Homo sapiens: one gene and its partner. The protein of the gene in region 2 purifies or fractionates together with the protein of the main gene of each other region. This does not show direct contact. Each region holds a gene or a part of one and is shown on either strand. Other genes may lie near its edges. The genes, in order: RALA and MYO1G.

Region 1 (3,820 bases), 5.3 Mb from region 2:
AAGAGAAAAGATACAAGTACAAAATCAAAGATGTAAACATTTGTAATGTTAAATTTGAATTGGAAATAACAACATGATCACATTTTTTTCTTTTAATAATACCTATTTCCTAGAACTATTCACTGAAAAATGACAACACAATAGCAACAAGCAAATTATGTAACTATGCTGTGGCTGCTAAATATCATTCCTCCTAAACAGAACCTGAGTTCCTTAGATGAATGGCTGATTCCTGATCTGCAGCAAGAAGCATAAAATTTAAGTCAGAAAGCAACGAAACTATCAAAGATGAATGGGCTGAGTCAAACGGACATAGGACCAACATGAAGGAGCATAAACGGTTAAAGGGAAAAAAGTATAAAACACACACCCACACACAAAGTATGCAACAGAACGGAACACAATGATGACATAAAAGCCATGGGTTTTTGCCCCTAGTGGTTGTGATTCTATTTCCCCAGAGACTAGGAATTTCAGAAGACCTCTGTTTCAAGTCTCTGGCTAACTAGCTAGGACAGGAGGTCTCGATTCTGACTAAATGTAATTATTGGAATACTCCCAGTATTGCTTTCTAATGCAGATAAATCACTATGAAAAGGAAACTAGATGAAGGTTTAATTTCTGATTTTATTTTCAATTGAATTTTGTCTGTTTAATTGACACATATTCACAGAGTACACAGTGATGTTTTGAAACATATAACGTACAGTGACTAAGACCAGGGTAATTAGCACATCCATCATCTCAATCATTTATTATTTGTGTTGGGAACATTCAATATCCTCCTTTCAGGTATTTGAAACTATACATTATTGTTAAGTATAGTCATCTACAATAGTATAGTACACCAGAGCTCATTCCTCATATCTAGCTGTAATTCTGTATAATTTAACAAATCTCTACCTATCCCTCCCATTCCAGCCTCTAGTATTCTCTGTTCTATTTTTTACTTCTATGAGATCAACTTTTTCTAAGCTTTTACATATGAATGAGAACATGCAGTGTTTAACTGCCTGTTCCTGGCTTATTTCACTTAATTGTCTCCAGTTCTATCCATATTGCCATGAATGACAGGATTTCATCCTTTTCAATGATTGAATAGTACTCTATAGTGTATATCTATCACATTTTCTTTATCCATTCATCTGTTGTTGGCACTTGGGTTGGTTCTGTATCTTGGCTATTGTGAACACTGCTGTAACAAATAAATGTCATTAATAGGAAAATGGCTGAATTATGGAAAAGTCTAACCATGGAATACTTTGTGGTTTTAAAAAGAATGTGGATACATCTATATGCAGTGACATGGAAGAGCTGTAGGATTTGTCATAAAATTTAAAAAGCGCACCACAGAAATATGCTCTATATATACAGATACAAAATATATTACGTGTGTGTATATATATACACAAATCCTATTAATACAGGAAGAAAAAACAAGCAAATGCAAACTTTCCCTTAGAGATATGTATGACTGCTTTTAACGTCTGGAAAGACACACCCGTGTTAGCACTGGTTACTGAAAGGGAGGGGAAAGGAGTGAACTATGGGAGAAAAATGACTCATTTTTCCTCCTTATGTTTCTATATTATGAATTTTTCTTTATATAAGCATGTATCCATGTATTACTTATACAATGAAAAAACCCAAATATGATATTTTCCAAAAAATACAGTGTATTTCTACCAAAATTCTTCCCTCGACATAAAACTGATTCTCTTGACATAATAAATCACACTGCCCCTTTGGACATCTGTTAATATTTGCTCAACTTCTCTCTATTCTGCCAAAATGTTCCTTAAAATCAAGAGCAACCTTGGAGTCGTGAATTAAGACCCAGAGCATTTAGCTAGAAGGATAATAACAAGGTCACTGAATGAATCCAATGAGTACACAAGTAGGATTGCCCAGATGTTCCTTTAGCCTCGGAGTGATTCCTCTGTGACAAGCATGGCTTCCTGAGACATGCCATGCCCCAGCTCTGGTGGCTATGACACTTTTTCATGACTAGATTTAAAATCTGCATCTTTGAAACTTCCACCTAATGGTCTATTTGGACTCCAGATGAGGATAACGCATGAGCCAATGATCTTATGGAGAGCTAGCATTTGTTCTGTGACAAAGCATGACACTTCACAATTTAATAAAAGGAAATAACACTTGCTATTCCTGAAAATTTGTGATCAGGCTTCTAGTAGTGGATGACATAAGAAATGGGAGATACACTAGCTATTCCAACCATTGTTTTGTTTTGTTTTTGAGATAGGGTCTCACTCCCATTACCCAGGCTGGAGGGTAGTGGTTATGATCTCGGCTCACTGCAGCCTCCACCTCCCAGGCTCAAGCAATCCTCCTGTCTCAGCCTCCCAAGTAACTGTGACTACAGACATTCGCCACCACACCTGGCTAGTTTTTGTATTTTTTGTAGAGATAGGCTTTTGCCATGTTGCCCGGGCTGGTCTCAAACTCCTGGGCTCAAGTAATCTGCCTGCCTCGGCCTACCAGAGTGCAGGGATTATAGGTGTGGTGGCACCTGGCCCCAACCATTGTTTTGAGTAAAATATTGAAGAAAGAATGTGAGCATGTGAGCGCCAGAGTTGGCCAGACCCAGAAGCTGCAGATGCCACCACGAACCCCGTGACCTTGAGCCAGTTACGTAATCTCCCCACACCGCAGCTTCCTTGTCTAAAAAGTGAGCATCAGAAGAGTATCTACGCCTCACACAATTAAGGATTAAATGGTTGGTACTTACCACAGTGCCTGGCTCTTATAAACACAAATAAATATTAGCTTTTCTGATTATTAGATTATTTCCTCAGGAAAACAACCACAAACACAAGTATAACCTAATTCTGGAAATTGAATAGTTGCTGCAAATGACTTTTATGTAGCCACTGAGGTACTTTATCTGGTAATCACTCCGCAGGATGTAGCAGTACATGAAATTATAGTCTTCAGTATGGATTTGCACCTCACTTTACAAGCAGCCTCGTTTAATGTAATTCTGTTTTGGACAGGTGACCACCGACTGCAGACTGTATTAACTGAAACTGGCCACAGCAATGTTTCCTATGTGCTTTTCCAGAATCCTGCCACTTTTCATCAAGAGCTGAAGTCTATTCCCCTTCCTTCTCAACCTAGGTGAGACTTTGTGACTATCTCCAACCTGTAGAATGAGGTAGAAATAATGCTGCATAACTTCAGAGACTATGTCATAAAAGGCCGTATGGTTTCTGCCTGGTTCTTTTTCTCTTGTGACACTTGCCCTTGGAGACTCTGCCCACTGTGCTGTGAGGAAGCCTAAACTAGCACACATGGAAAAGGCCACATGGAGGAGCCCACCTGGAGAGGAACTGAGGCATCCTTGGATAATGGCCAGCATCATCTGGCTGAGCCAGACATGTGCGAACAAGCCTTCAGAACCTAAGTTTAGGTATTTCCAGTGCCTAGACTTGAAGCTTTCAGCTGAGGCAGCAGACACTGTAGAGCAGAGCCAAGCCATTTCCACTGTGCCCTGTTCAAATTCTTGGCCACAGAATGTATAAGCAGAATAAATGACTGTTTTACCCATAAAGGTTCTGGGGTGTACTTTGTTATACAGCCATAGTAACTAAAACGGCCTTATACCTTTATTTTATTTTTTATTTTTTGAAAAAGTAACATAGTCGTACCTCAGTATCTATGGGGGATTGGTTCCAGAATGCCCGTGGATCCCAAAATCTCTACCTACTCAAGTCCCGCAGCTGGCCCTGCAGAACACATGGATGCAAAAAGCCAGCCCTCCGCATATGCAGGTTTCACATCCTGCTGTATTCTCTGT
Region 2 (3,747 bases):
GCAGTCAGCTAATGTGGCATAGCATCCACCTTCCCACCTATCAAGGGGGCTGGTGTATCTCCCATCCAGGCACTGCAGGCCCGGGATGATGGGTTAAGGTATTCAGTGGATGCCAGCTGAATGGAATGTGTGGTGGGCTGAGAGTAGTACCTGCAGAAGAGTGCGTGGCAGGTGTCCTGGAAGGGCTGCAGCACAGCAGGGGGCAGCGGCCACACAAGGTCACGCCCGTAGAGTGGCGGCTGCCTTGCAGCCTGGAATCGCCGCTGCAGCTCAGCCAGGTGAGCCCGCACCTTGTGTCTCCGGAACCAGCGCATGATGGTGTAGATAGCCCTCAGCCTCCGGCAGCGCCACCTCGCCAAGGTGCCCCGCCATGCCTGGGTGGGCCAGGTGGGATGGGATACGCAGTCAAATTCAATCAGGCCCTAACCCTTAGACCCAAACCTGGCCCTGAGCATTTATTGAGCACTCCCTGGCCTGTCTCCATCAAGCAGAGACTCCTGTGAAACTTACAAGTGTGTTTGTGGCCCCTGGGACACAAGCTTTCCCCACCTCCATAGTGGATGTCTTCCTGCCCCGCCCACCTCACCTTCTGCAATAGCAGCACAATGATGGGGATGAGGCGGGCTCGGCTCTGCTCCAGTGTGACCAGTGTCCGGGGTGAGCGGATGAACAGCTTGCTGTGGCCAAAGGCCACGTCCCCCTGCAGCCCGTGCTGCTCCAGGAGAGCGCTCACGGCTGCCTTGTCGGAGCCCAGCAGGTGGTTGGGCCATGTGTATTCACAGGTCATCTTGTACCTGTCACCACAGGACAGGGCAGTGTGGCCCAGGCCTGGGGGAGAGATGATGGAGCCCACCCTGCCCACCCCACACCTGGGGAGATGGCAGGGATACAGAGTGTGTTCCTGGAGCACTTATGACACCTGTGCACATATGTCTTCCCATACACATGTCCTCACATACATGTCCTCACACAGCCCTCATACCCATGTTCCCACCTGTATGTCCCCACATGCATGTGCTCACACACATGTCTTCCCAGATATTTTGGTGTCTTGAGGCCAGCAGCGTGCTGGTTCCTGCTTGTATCGATGTTTGCGACGTGCTGTTTGGGGACCCTCTGCTCCTACCCCTTGGACTCCACACAGGGACTATGGCCCATGGAGTGATGGGTGTCAGGTGCCAGTACCTGAGCAGGAATCGAGAGTAGGGCTGGCGGGAAGCGAAGCCAGCCCTGCGGACCCTCACATTCTCCAGCAGCCCCAGGTATGCGACCTGGTGGCGACAGTGGTTCTCATCCAGCTTCCCAGCTACCTTGTCCTCATTGGGCTTGATGCAGCGGACGTAGAAGGGCTCCTGCAGGGACAGAGGGGACTTGGAGAGGGTCTGCGCCAGCAGCACTGTGCACCCTGCCCCACACCAGGGGCTTCCTAACCCCTCAAGGTCCCAGGCCAGGAGAAGAGTTGGGAACAAAGAAGGGAAATCAGCAGAACAAGGGCCCTGGAAGCCCTAAGTGCTGGGCAGAGGCCAGCAAGGCCAGGTTCAGAGCCAGGTTCCAGCCCCTGGTCGGGGGGTGGGGAGGTGGGCGTGGCAGGGGCAGGAGCAGGCCTCGCCCCATCTGCCTTCCTTCTCTCCTTCCAAAAGGGGCTGACATCTCTGGATGTTCTGTAGTTAAGCTCACCCTAACATGTCCTCTCCCTGACCCTTCACCTGTTCCTCTTCTGACTTTTGACCCAAAGCTCCCCAAGAAAGCTTGTGCCAGTTTCCTGTCTCTCTGGCCCCACCTGCCAGAAGAATCCTGGGTTTTTGCCAAGAGCTGGGCTGGGCCAAGCCAGCCTCTCAGCAGGGTCTCCCCAAACCCCTCCCTGTTCAAGAGACAATGGGGCGAGGAGAAGCCTGGGTTCCCCATGATTGATCAAGCCTCAGCCCAGCCCCTGAGGCCCCACATCTCACCTGTGCAGTGGGTGGGGTCCACTGCTGGAGCAGATGTGGCTCATACAGACAGGACAAGAACCCTCTCCCCACCACTATGATGTACAGAGGTGGTTGGGACCCTACTTGGCACCGAGGGCACAGAGAGAAGGATCCGGAACAGCCAGAGTGGGAGAGGGGTGGAACATACCTTGGAGGCAAGGTTCTCCACCAGGGCCACCATGGAGTTCTTGAAGAGTGTGCCAGCCGTCAGGGGGCGCTTGGTCACCTCTGTGATGTCCTGCTGCCCGTCCGGCCACATGGCCCGTAGAGTGGGGTCCGTGCTGCAGACACAGGCCGAATTCCCAGCCATCCTCTGGGAGAGCAGCCCCACCCACCCACGTCCTGACGCTAGTCAATGCCTGACCCCAGAGTCTCTGGGGCCCCAGGGCCCTGGCCCTCCCTATGGTGCCCAGCAAGCCGTGCTCACCTGTTGTACAGCAGCCGCTTGAAGTCCTGGAAGAGGAAATCTCTGTTCTTGTCGATGAAGCCTTCCACGGAGTACCTACCAGAAGCCAGGGCTGGTGAGGGAGCAGGGGCGGGGGCTGCCAGGCCAGAGTGCTAATGACCCCAGCAGCCCCCACTCTCTTCCCATCTGCCTCTGTTCCCATAGGTCAGTCTCTCTTCCTCCCTCTGCCTTGGCTCCTCTCCTCCTTCCCCCTCACACCTGCTTTCTCTTTCGTCATGTAAGACTCCCTCCCTCAGGAGACATTTCTCTCCTGGAAGATGAATCGAGTGGTTAAGCCCCCAGCTCTGAAGCCAAATGTCCTAGCACCGAGTCCTGCTTCTACCACATGCATGCTGTGTGACTTTGCCTAAGCCACTCAACCTCTCTGTGCTTCAGTGTACATCAGTTGCTCAGAACAGTGCCTACTGAATTTTGATAAACATCAGCGACTACAACTATGACTAGGAACTCCTGAGTCCTGGGCCTATTTTGATCTGTGGGCACTGAGAGCCTCAGAATCACTGTCTAGTTCTTGGACTGCTAGAAAGGTCAGTGCCAAATCTTGGCTCCAACTGCAGCACCTATGAAGGCTCAGGGAATGGATTTTTTTTTTTTTTTTTTGAGAAATAGTCTCACTCTCTTGCCCAGGCTGGAGTGCAGTGGTGCGATCTCAGTTCGCCACAACCTCTACCTCCCAGGTTCAAGCAGTTCTTGTGCCTCAGCCTCCCGAGCAACTGGCATTACAGGCACGCGTCATCGTGCCCGGATAATTTTTATATTTTTAGTACAGATGAGGTTTTGCCATGTTGGCCAGGCTGGTCTCGAACTCTTGGCCTCAGGTGATCCACCCACTTTGGCCTCCCAAAGTGCTGGGGTTACAGGCATGAGCGACCTCATGGGTGTAGATTTTGCGAACAGATAAAGGTAGATGATATTGGGCTGCTTTGTTGTCATCATCTATTCTATTCCCTCTCCTTGAGAAGTTCTCATGAAACACTTATACCTTGATGTGAGTCACCTTAAATCGTTTTGGGATGCGGCAAGCAACACATAAGTTAATAGCCATCATGACAACCCCTGAAGACACCTGGGCTTTGGCACTGGGAGCGTGGTCCAAGTATGGTAGCGAGGCCTCACCTGGGAGCTTGTTAGAAATGCAGAATCTTGGCCCCCCTGCACCTTCCACTCCCTCCCCACCCCCACATCACCAGCCTGAAGCCCCCCACCCCACAGATGCTGGTATAGGGTTGGGCCCAGACATGAGACGTGGGTATTTTTTAAAGGCTCCCAGAAGAATGCAGCCATGGTTAACCACTATCCTCAAACCCTGTT

What was found.
Region 1: the proteins of MYO1G (region 2) and RALA fractionate together in Homo sapiens (co-fractionation; one large-scale study listed by BioGRID). This does not show direct contact.

Annotation. Positions count from the first base shown.
Region 1 is NC_000007.14:39,699,952-39,703,771, reverse strand, and holds part of RALA (ras-related protein Ral-A precursor), read right to left. Parts: intron 1-3,820. UniProt on the Homo sapiens protein: Multifunctional GTPase involved in a variety of cellular processes including gene expression, cell migration, cell proliferation, oncogenic transformation and membrane trafficking.
Region 2 is NC_000007.14:44,965,487-44,969,233, forward strand, and holds part of MYO1G (unconventional myosin-Ig), read right to left. Parts: intron 2,473-3,747; coding exon 2,398-2,472; intron 2,252-2,397; coding exon 2,119-2,251; intron 1,353-2,118; coding exon 1,186-1,352; intron 795-1,185; coding exon 587-794; intron 375-586; coding exon 151-374; intron 1-150. UniProt on the Homo sapiens protein: Unconventional myosin required during immune response for detection of rare antigen-presenting cells by regulating T-cell migration. Unconventional myosins are actin-based motor molecules with ATPase activity and serve in intracellular movements.